Homo sapiens: one gene and its partners. The protein of the gene in region 2 purifies or fractionates together with the protein of the main gene of each other region. This does not show direct contact. Each region holds a gene or a part of one and is shown on either strand. Other genes may lie near its edges.

Region 1 (3,733 bases), about 90 Mb from region 2:
TGGGCGTAGTGGCGTGCACTGGTAGTCCCAGCTACTCAGGAGGCTGAGGCAGGGGAATCGCTTGAACTCAGGAGGCAGAGGTTGCAGTGAGCCGAGATCGCGCCACTGCACTCCAGCCTGGGTGACAGAGCAAGACTCCATCTCAAGAAAAAAAAAAAAAAAAAAAAAAAGACTACTACTAAGAGAATATTGATAGATAATATTTTATTTAAATATGTGGCAACAATTTGAGTTAAAACTGATGTTTCCGCTCTTTATAGGCCGAGTGATAGCTACTTTCACATGTTCAGGAGAAAAGGAAGTAAATTTGGCTGTTCAAAATGCAAAGGCTGCTTTTAAAATATGGAGTCAAAAATCTGGCATGGAGCGTTGCCGAATCCTTTTGGAGGCTGCCAGGATAATAAGGGTATGTTCCAATTTATTTCCTTCCAGAACTCAGACATTGCTCTGAGGTTTCTTTGTGATGTTTGCAGTTCGACTTTGTTGCAACATTAGGCCGTAACGTTTTTATAAAATGGAAAAACATTTCCACATGCTCACCTTAGTATATAAAACAAGTTTTTGTTCAATACTTCCCATCTGGATGTTGGCTCTTGGACATCTCCTTTGGCAGGTTTTCATGTTTGTAAAGCTTTGTTTTGAATTATAATGCACTCTTTATAGCTCATCGTCCTTTTTTTATTTTTATTTTTTTTTTTTTTTGAGACGGAATCTTGCTCTGTCGCCCAGGCTGGAGTGCAGTGGAGTGATCTCGGCTCACTGCAACCTTCGCCTCCCGGGCTCAAGCAATTCTCCTGCCTCAGCTTCCCAAGTAGCTGGGACTACAGGTGTGTGCCACCATGCCTGGCTAATTTTTGTATTTTTCGTAGAGATGGATTTCACCATGTTGGCCAGGCTGGTCTTGAACTCCTGACCTCAAGTGATCCACCCACATCGGCCTCACAAAATGCTGGGATTACAGGCGTGAGCCACTGTGCCCAGCCTTTCTTTCTTTTTAAACCATGTGGTTTACTTGTTTCCTTTTTATTCTTTATTTTGATGATTCTCAAGTCTACCTTTCTTTTTCAGATTTGTTTTCAGATAGGGTTTTAAGTATCGTTACTTTAATTGGGAAGATTTCATAGATTTGTAGATGTTCCCTTTAAAAAAAAGAGAGTTAAACTTTTTTTTTACATCATAAATATATACAATTTTTATTTGTCAACTAAAAAAAATTGTAAAAACAAGTATTTAATACTCATCGCAAAACATAAAAAGCCTGCAATGCAAAGGGTTTCTGTGGTGTAGTAGTTACCACGCTGGCCTAACACACGGAAGGTCCTCTGTTTGAAACTTGACGGAAACAAAAGGTTTCTTTTGTTTCCCAGAATCTGACCAGGCTGCCTCTTCCTGGGAGTCCAGAGCTGCGAGGAACAAGTGATAATCCTGCCTCCTTTTTTTTTTTTTTTTATACTTAAGTTCTAGGGTACATGTACACAATGTGCAGGTTTGATACATAGGTATACAAGTGCCATGTTGGTTTGCTGCACCCATCAACTCACCATTTACATTAGGTATTTCTCCTAATGCTATCCCTCCCCCAGCCCCCCACCCCCTACGGCCCCGGTGTGTGATGTTCCCCACCCTGTGTCCAAGTGATCTCATTGTTCAATTCCCACCTATGAATGAGAACATGCAGTGTTTGGTTTTCTGTCCTTGTGATAGTTTGCTCAGAATGATGGTTTCCAGCTTCATCCATGTCCCTGCAAAGGACATGAACTCATCCTTTTTAATGGCTGCATAGTATTCCATGGTATATATGTGCCACATTTTCTTAATCCAGTCTATCATTGATGGGCATTTGGGTTGGTTCCAAGTCTTTGCTCTTGTGAATAGTGCTGCAATAAACATACGTGTGCATGTGTCTTTATAGTAGCATGATTTATAATCCTTTGAGTATATACCCAGTAATGGGATGGCTGGGTCAAATGGTATTTCTAGTTCTAGATATTTGAGGAATCGCCACACTGTCTTCCACAATGGTTGAACTAGTTTACAGTCCCACCAACAGTGTAAAAGTGTTCCTATTTCTCCACATCATCTCCAGCACCTGTTGTTTCCTGACTTTTTAATGATTGCCATTCTAACTGGTGTGAGATGGTATCTCATTGTGGGTTTGATTTGCATTTCTCTGATGGCCAGTGATGATGAGCATTTTTTCATGTGTCTTTTGGCTGCATAAATGTCTTTTTTTGAGAAGTGTCTGTTCATATCCTTTGCCCACTTGTTGATGGGGTTGTTTGTTTTTTCTTGTAAATTTGTTTAAGTTCATTGTAGATTCTGGATATTAACCCTCTGTCAGATGGGTAGATTACAAAAATTTTCTCCCATTCTGTAGGTTGCCTGTTCACTCTGATGGTAGTTTCTTTTGCTGTGCAGAAGCTCTTTAGTTTACTTAGATCCCATTTGTCTATTTTGGCTTTTGTTGCCATTGCTTTTGGTGTTTTAGTCATGAAGTCCTTGCCCATGCCTGTGTCCTGAATGGTATTGCCTAGGTTTTCTTCTAGGGTTTTTATGGTTTTAGGTCTAACATTTAAGTCTTTAATCCATCTTGAATTAATTTTTGTATAAGGTGTAAGGAAGGGATCCAGTTTCAGCTTTCTACATATGGCTAGCCAGTTTTCCCAGCACCATTTATTAAATAGGGAATCCTTTCCTCATTTCTTGTTTTTCTCAGGTTTGTCAAAGATCAGATGGTTGTAGATGTGTGGTATTATTTCTGAGGGCTCCGTTCTGTTCCATTGTTCTATATCTCTGTTTTGGTACCAGTACCATGCTGTTTTGGTTACTGTAGCCTTGTAGTATAGTTTGAAGTCAGGTAGCATGATGCCTCCAGCTGTGTTCTTTTGGCTTAGGATTGTCTTGGCAATGCAGGCTCTTTTTTGGTTCCATATGAACTTTAAAATAGTTTTTTCCAATTCTGTGAAGAAAGTCATTGGTAGCTTGATGGGGATGGCATTAAATCTATAAATTACCTTGGGCAGTATGGCCATTTTTGCGATATTGATTCTTCCTATCCATGAGCATGGAATGTTCTTTCATTTGTTTGTGTCCTCTTTTATTTCATTGAGCAGTGGTTTGTAGTTCTCCTTGAAGAGGTCCTTCACATCCCTTGTAAGTTGGATTCCTGGGTATTTTATTCTCTTTGAAGCAATTGTGAATGGGAGTTCACTCATGATTTGGCTCTGTGTTTGTCTGTTATTGGTGTATAGGAATGCTTGTGATTTTTGCACATTGATTTTGTATCTTGAGACTTTGCTGAAGTAGCTTATCACCTTAAGGAGATTTTGGGCTGAGACAATGGGGTTTTCTAAATATACAATCATGTCATCTGCAAACAGGGACAATTTGACTTCCTCCTAATTGAATACACTTTATTTTTTTCTCCTGCCTGATTGCCTTGGCCAGAACTTCCAACACTATGTTGAATAGGAGTGGTGAGAGAGGGCATTCATGTCTTGTGCCAGTTTTCAAAGGGAATGCTTCCAGTTTTTGCCCATTCAGTATGATATTGGCTGTGGGTTTGTCATAAATAGCTCTTATTATTTTGAGATATGTCCCATCAATACCTAGTATATTGAGAGTTTTTAGCATGAAGGGCTGTTGAAATTTGTCGAAGGCCTTTTCTGCGTCTGTTGAGATAGTCGTGGTTTTTGTCTTTGGTTCTGTTTATATGATGGATTACGTTTATTGA
Region 2 (3,733 bases):
GTTAAAACCAATACATTACCACTCATTCTATAGTTTTATTTAATAATAGTAACAAAATCGTAAAAATTGTTATCTGGTTTCATATATTACCTAATTTGCCTTACTATATGAACAGTGAACAGTTGTAATCAGTTCTTTCTTTTTGTTTTAATTTTGTAAAGATGGGGTCTCGTTATGTTGCCCAAGCTGGTCTTGAACCCCTGGGCTCAAGCAATCCTCCTGCCTCAGCCTCCAAAACTGCTGGGATTGTAGACGTGAGTGATTGCACCTGGCTAATCCGTTTTTAAAATTACGAAAACTTCAAACTGCATTGTTAGATTTCTCTCAACTTGTTAAATTTTAATAGTTTCTTCACTTTTTATTAGTTGCTGATATTACCAGGAATTGGTTAAAGGTAAAGATATAGCACTCCATAATACTGAATATATTTAGGATGCTCATAAGGAATTGACTGATATGTTTAATCTAAGTAACTTTTTAGTAGGCTCACTCTGAAAAAAAATGATGTTTTATTTGCTAGAAAACTGTAGTATATGGCACACAAATATATTGAATCTGAATTTTTTACAAAGAGAGACAGGTCATTTAGTACATTATTCCAATCAATAAAAAGTTATTCTAGAAACTCTCTATATACTTGTAGTGATGGGTAAATACAGTATTTCCCATGACAACTTAACAGCACTGCTGATAGAAAGCCTGTCCTTATGTTAAGCTAAATTCTACATTTTTCTAACTTTCACTCATTAATTCTAAGCTGGCATCCTGAAGTAAACATATAAGCCTGATCATCTTTCTGTGTAATAATATTTGAAAAACTTCAAGATTCTTCCAAAATAACCAAGGCTTTGCTTTTCAGAACATGTTTTGTAGGCTCCTCCTAATGCAAGATACTTACATGCTTCTAGATTTAGTCAAGTTTTTCAATACATGTTTTAAAATGTGTTGCCCAGAACTGTCACCATTTTTTCTCTATTTGATGCTGTACTTCTATTACTTTGGCTTAAAATTACATTGGCTTTTTAAAGGCTCATACTATTGATTCTTATTGAACTTAACAGTTATTGAACTTTCCTCATCTTTTATCAACAAATAATCGAGTGTTTTTTTTTAGTATTTTATATTTATACAAATTATTTTTGATCCTTTGTTGAACTTCATATTTTTTGACCATATATTAGAAAATTTCAGATTTTATTAAAGTCAAATTCTGTCTTCTCTAATAGATAACCTGTTTTAAGACTGACTCTGTTTATTTCTGACATCTGGAGACAGGCACTATACCAAAGGTTCTCCTTTTTCCTTAGGGTTTTAGGGATTCCAAGGAGCGGCTGGTATAGGAGATGAGGAGTGGAGATAATAAGCCAAGTAGACAGAGTGCTAGCCTTCCTAATCAGATTCAAACAGAGCACGCATTTGTATTTTATTTTACACATTAAACTTCTGAGAGTTAATTTGAAAAAACAGTGCAGGGGCTTAAAATTAGTTTTTGAAAATCACTGAACTGTTTATAATCTCCTTTAGGCCTTCCAGTTCCACAAACATACCTTAACTGTAGTGGTTTAAAAATATACAGAAAGAAAGAGAGATTTGAAGATAAAACAATTAAGAAAAAATATACAAAGATGTTTTGAACAACATACCAATTAGCTTTTCCTCCGTTGGTTATCCACATCTTCTGACCATTAATAATATACTCATCTCCTTTCTTTTCTGCTTTGGTCTTTATACCAGCTACATCAGAGCCTGCTCCAGGTTCTGTTACACAATAAGCCTTGAATATATAAAAACAAGAGAAATGAAATTAAATGTTAGTGATTAAATTTTGACTGTTTGGAAACAGGATTGTTTTATTTTTTAAGCTGTATTTTAAATATTTTTAAATATCTAAAATTAAAATGTTCTTACAAAATCAAAGAAACCACTCAAATGTAAAAACTTTTCTGTTTTGTTTGTAAGAGACAGGGTCTCACTCTCTTGCCCAGGCTGGAATGCAGAGGCTCAATGCAGTCTTGGCTTCCTGGACTCAGGAAATCCTCCCGCCTCAGCCTCCCGTGTATAATAGCTGAGACTGCAAGCACACATCACCATGCCCAGCTAATTTTAAATTTTTTGTAGACATGGCATCTCACTGTGTTGCCTAGGCTGGTCTCAACCTCCTGGGCTCAGGCAATCCTCTGCCTCAGCCTCCCAAAGTGCTGGGACTACAGGTATGAGCCACAGTGCCTGGCCTAAAAACACTTAATATATAATTCAAATTAGGCATAGGTATATCAACAAATCATATATTTAATAAAAAGTGAAAATGTTAGATAGCTTTAAACAAGTTCATTAAATTCAATTTCACATGTATTCATTCATGCAAACATGTATTGAATATCTACTATGTACCACGATGTAAATTAGGATATGGGGAAACCAGAGGTAAAAGACATTCAGTCCTAGAGATTTTCACAATGTAACAGTGAAGATAAATAACTATACTGCAACTCTATGTGTGAAAGTCAGACAAGGGGCTTGAGAAACTAGTTTCCCAGGGCAGAGGATGTTTAAATTAAGTCTCAAAAAGGAAAATGGCTTCTTTGCGAGGAGGGAAAAAGAGGAAGAATATGCATTCCAGGTACAAGTAATGGCATATGCTATGACACTAAGATAAGAAACAGAGTTACCCAGTGTTTCTAATGCTGAAAGTACCAGAGTTCCACAGTATGTAAATTCTGTGCATGTAAGGGAATGGTAAGACATGAGTCTGGAAAGAAAGGAAGGAAATGGTCGACGAGAATCTTTTATATCACATTACAAATTTAAAATTTTATCTGGTAGAAACAGGGGAGCCTCTTAGAGCTCTTAAACAGAGGAGTGACAAGACACAAGCAGTAATGGATAAAAGGGGGTGGTAGAAGGCAAGTGTTAGTGCAAGTTAATTCAAGAGTGGCCGGTACTGTGGATACTAAAGAAACAAGTTACTTGCCCTTAAGGTACTTACAGTCCAAAGAAGAAAGAAACTGGGCCGAGCATGGTGGCCCCCCACCTGTAATCCTAGCATTTTGTGAGGCTGAGATGGGAGGATCGCTTGAGACCAGGAGTTCAAGACCAGCCTGGTCAACATGCCGAGAACCCATGTCAATTTATTTTTTAAAAATATACAACAAAAAAGAAAGAAACTATATACATTTTAATTCAAAGTAGTAAGCATATATAGGGGCACTAGAAATGATTACTTAGGGCCGGGCGTGGTGGCTGAGGCTTCAGGTTTGTAATCCCAGCACTTTGGGAGGCCGAGGCAGGTGGGTCACCTGAGGTTAGGAGTTCGAGACCAGCCTGGCCAACATGGTGAAACCCTGTCTCTACTAAAAATACAAAAACTTAGCCAGGCTTGGTGGCGGGCGCCTGTAATCCCAGCTACTTGGGAGGCTGAGGAAGAATTGCTTGAACCTGGGAGGTGGAGGTTGCAGTGAGCCGAGATGGTGCCACTGCACTCCAGCCTAGGCAACAGAGCGAGACTCCATTTCAGAAAAAAAAAATAATAACAATACTTGGCTGGGCATGGTGGCTCACACCTGTAATTCCAGCACATTGGGAGGCCAAGGTGGGCAGATCATGAGGTCAGGAGATAGAGACCATCCTGGCTAACACAGTGAAATCTTGTCTCTACTAAACATACAAAAAATTAGGCAGGCGTGGTGGCACGCACCTGTAGTCCCAGCTGCTTGGGAGGCTGAGGCAGGAGAAT
Region 3 (3,500 bases), on a different chromosome or scaffold from region 2:
AGCTTTGCATACCTGGAGTAAATCCCACGTAGTGATGGTGTATAATTATTTTTAATACATTGTTGGATTTGATTTGCTAATACACTGTTGAGGATTTTTGCCTCTAACCTATGCTCATGAGAGATATTAGTCACTGTCCACCAAGGTCATTCAATTAGAGAAACCTTAGATCATTCTTACTGCTTTCCTTTCTACTACGAATGTACATGTGAAGAAGTTAAATGCTTGCAAATCTAGTCTCCTATTGCTTTGCCAGCATCTTCATCCAGGTTCTTGAGGTCTCTCCTGAGGCTGTGGCAGCCTACATCCCCATGTCTTCTGTGTTCATCAAAACTCCAACCTCATTTTACGCTTGTCACTGCCATGTGAGATACTTTGCTGAAATACTAAACTGATTTGTGGGCTTATAAACATTCATTTCCCTATTAACCTACAAATAAGATTTAAACCAATTTGCTTTTTTTGATATTTAAAAATATTAATTATTTAAAGTAACAAACCCAACTCATGTGTCCAGTTTCCCCTTCTCCATTTCTCACTCTTTCCTGATCATGAATGCTCTTAAAATGACATTCTGTTCCCGAGAATCCCCTCCTCACATCTCTACTTTGTGCACACATTTCATCATGCTCAGTTCTCCTGTGTAGCTTTGCCTGCAAACACAGGCACTTTGTATGGATTTGAAGGCAGAAAGATCATCTAATATTTTTTAGCATGTCTTCCCCCATTAGGCCAGGAATTCTCTCATATTCATCTTTCACCAACATTTCATTTAAGCCTAATCATTTTGACTTCTGCACATTAGCATTTCAATTTTAAAGACTTGAAAAAAAATACTAAATGTTATGTAAATGTAATTTTTTATGAACCTTGTTTACAAGGTAACAATATGTCAGAGACCATGTCGTGTTTACCAGTGCCTGGAATTTAGAGCATCTTGGTAAATGTTTATTGAGCTAAATTGAAAAAGTTAAGAATCAGTTTATATAAACTACTTTTACACGTGTAGTCATGTTCGACTATATCATTGACTCTGTTACTGGAAGAGGTTGCTGTGAACTAAGGAAATTTTTAGAGTGGCTGGCCTTGATTCGAAGTATAGTTGGGCAGCTTAACAAGGGGAGGGGCTTTTCTGTCATGGAAACAAGATAAGCAAAGATATGGAGGTGGGACTAGAGCATGTGTGAGTCAATAGAGCATGTTGACTTCTGGGAAGGTGGTGGTACAGACAGGCCAAATAAAAGGAGGCCTTCAATACAGGGATTTGCGCCACTACTAAGGGATTTAAATATATGTCTATTCATATACATTCTGAGTCCTGTATTTGATAGATTGTTTCTTTATGGGGTATTCTTTAAATAAATATATATTAACTGAAAGTTTTTCTTGTATAATGGAACTATTTTTCAAAAAACTGAAACATTTTTAAAACTTTTATCCTCAGGATTCAAGTTCGAAATATGGCAACTTTGAAAGATAGTAAGTATGTTGTTTGTCTCAATATGTGAATTGAGAAAAACTAAATTTTGACAAATACAAATACTTTCAAAAATATACTGCTTTAGCCCATTGTGTATTTGATCAAAACTGACCAAATGGATTTCCATTGTATGTTTGGGACATTGGACTTGTTCTGAAAAGACCAGTAAGAAAGGACACCTGAGACAGCTATGTTCTGTTGTTTGTAGAATGATCATGATATAACTAGAAAAAATTATACCAGTGTTGGTGTAGGTGGGTGTATGTGTGGGAAGGGGTAAATCATGTTATATATAAATAATGTTATGGAATATGTGGTTAAGGCAACTTTCAATACCATTTAATGTTTTAAATGTATATTATTGTCTTATGTTGCCATTTGCTTGTCCTAAGTAGTAGCTAGTTTTGCCTTCCTTTTATTAGTACTATTTCTATTTTTTTTTTTTGGAGATGGAGCCTCATTCTATCACCCAGGCTGGAGTGCAGTGGCGCCATCTCGGCTCACTGCAAGCTCCGCCTCCCGGGTTCACGCCGTTCTCCTGCCTCAGCCTCCCGAGTAGCTGGGACTACAGGCGCCCGCCACCACGCTCGGCTAATTTTTTGTATTTTTAGTGGAGACGGGGTTTCACCGTGTTAGCCAAGATGGTCTTGATCTCCTGACCTCGTGATCCGCCCACCTCAGCCTCCCAAAGTGCTGGGATTACAGGCGTGAGCCACCGTGCCCGGCTATTAGTACTAGTTCTAATATTAAGACTGGTTTAGCATCGTGCTGTTTATTGTTTATCTAAGCGCTCATTATTCTGCCTTGCACTTCAGAAAAATATGTCAATAAATTCACAAGGAAGTTATACTGTAATTCCTTTGTCTTAACACAGTACTTCTATTTTTCAGTCACCAGGAGACTAAAGTCCATCAAAAACATCCAGAAAATTACCAAGTCTATGAAAATGGTAGCGGCAGCAAAATATGCCCGAGCTGAGAGAGAGCTGAAACCAGCTCGAATATATGGATTGGGATCTTTAGGTAAGGGAAGAGTGTAATTCACAAATTAGGAAGAACTGTTTCACACAAGGAAGACTACTGATGACTTACATTTAGAGCTTACAGTGATGTCAAGCCTATCTGAGCACTTGCCATGTACTTATTTTTCATCTACATCCACTTGACACGTAATGATAACAACCCGTGTAGGTAGTACAGGTAGGGACTGTTAGAATCCCTGCTTTCCAGTGAGAAAAACTGAAGCACACAGAAGTTAAGTAACTTGCCTAAGATCACATATAAAAGGATGAAGAGCCTCTGTTTGGACCTATGTGGTTTGGTGTCGAGTCTGTGTATTTGTTAGCCATTATACGTGACCATGTTAACTTTTAAAATATTCTGAAATGTTCCCAGTTGTTAAGTATACCATCAGAAGAACTTGGAAACCGTGCGTTAGATGTAAGGGCTTAATTTCATCCTATGACCTTGTAGTGTGGCATTTTAGGACTGCAGCGGGGGCGGGTGAGGGGCAGTGCAGTGGAGAGCTGGCCTTGTGGTCATGGATATGACTCATGATGGTGTTTTGAGAATCCGAACGATGTTGAAGCAGGAAAAGCAGCTGAGAACCTCCATTTTCAAGATACTTAATCACCATTCTTATCTTTTCAAAAGCATGAAGACATTTTTCCTTCAGAAATTTATGTAATCCATCCTTAATTAGTCTTCTTAATGGAAAAGAGATGAGATATGACAGTTTAAAAAGAATTTATATTGTGTTTTTAGATGCTTTTATACTTGTTTGATTATGAATTCATCTTGGAAATAAAGTTGTAAAGAGCTGGAAATGGGAAAGAAGTTTCTATTTTAACTTGTAATTACATTCTTTCTCTTAACTTTTTTATGATCATGCTGTCTTATCCTGAGTTGAGGCTATCTAAAAGAATTTTTAACTTAAGGAAGATTTATGCATATTTGATAGTAAAGAAGATCATGCAGTGAACCCCCTATTTATCTACCAAATCCTCAGTATCTCAACTGAC

Evidence for each region.
Region 1: the proteins of ACADM (region 2) and ALDH9A1 fractionate together in Homo sapiens (co-fractionation; one large-scale study listed by BioGRID). This does not show direct contact.
Region 3: the proteins of ACADM (region 2) and ATP5F1C fractionate together in Homo sapiens (co-fractionation; one large-scale study listed by BioGRID). This does not show direct contact.

Annotation. Positions count from the first base shown.
Region 1 is NC_000001.11:165,691,925-165,695,657, reverse strand, and holds part of ALDH9A1 (4-trimethylaminobutyraldehyde dehydrogenase isoform 1 precursor), read left to right. Parts: intron 1-260; coding exon 261-406; intron 407-3,733. UniProt on the Homo sapiens protein: Converts gamma-trimethylaminobutyraldehyde into gamma-butyrobetaine with high efficiency (in vitro). Can catalyze the irreversible oxidation of a broad range of aldehydes to the corresponding acids in an NAD-dependent reaction, but with low efficiency.
Region 2 is NC_000001.11:75,738,021-75,741,753, reverse strand, and holds part of ACADM (medium-chain specific acyl-CoA dehydrogenase, mitochondrial isoform a precursor), read right to left. Parts: intron 1,775-3,733; coding exon 1,644-1,774; intron 1-1,643. UniProt on the Homo sapiens protein: Medium-chain specific acyl-CoA dehydrogenase is one of the acyl-CoA dehydrogenases that catalyze the first step of mitochondrial fatty acid beta-oxidation, an aerobic process breaking down fatty acids into acetyl-CoA and allowing the production of energy from fats.
Region 3 is NC_000010.11:7,794,677-7,798,176, forward strand, and holds part of ATP5F1C (ATP synthase F(1) complex subunit gamma, mitochondrial isoform L (liver) precursor), read left to right. Parts: intron 1-1,444; coding exon 1,445-1,479; intron 1,480-2,370; coding exon 2,371-2,502; intron 2,503-3,500.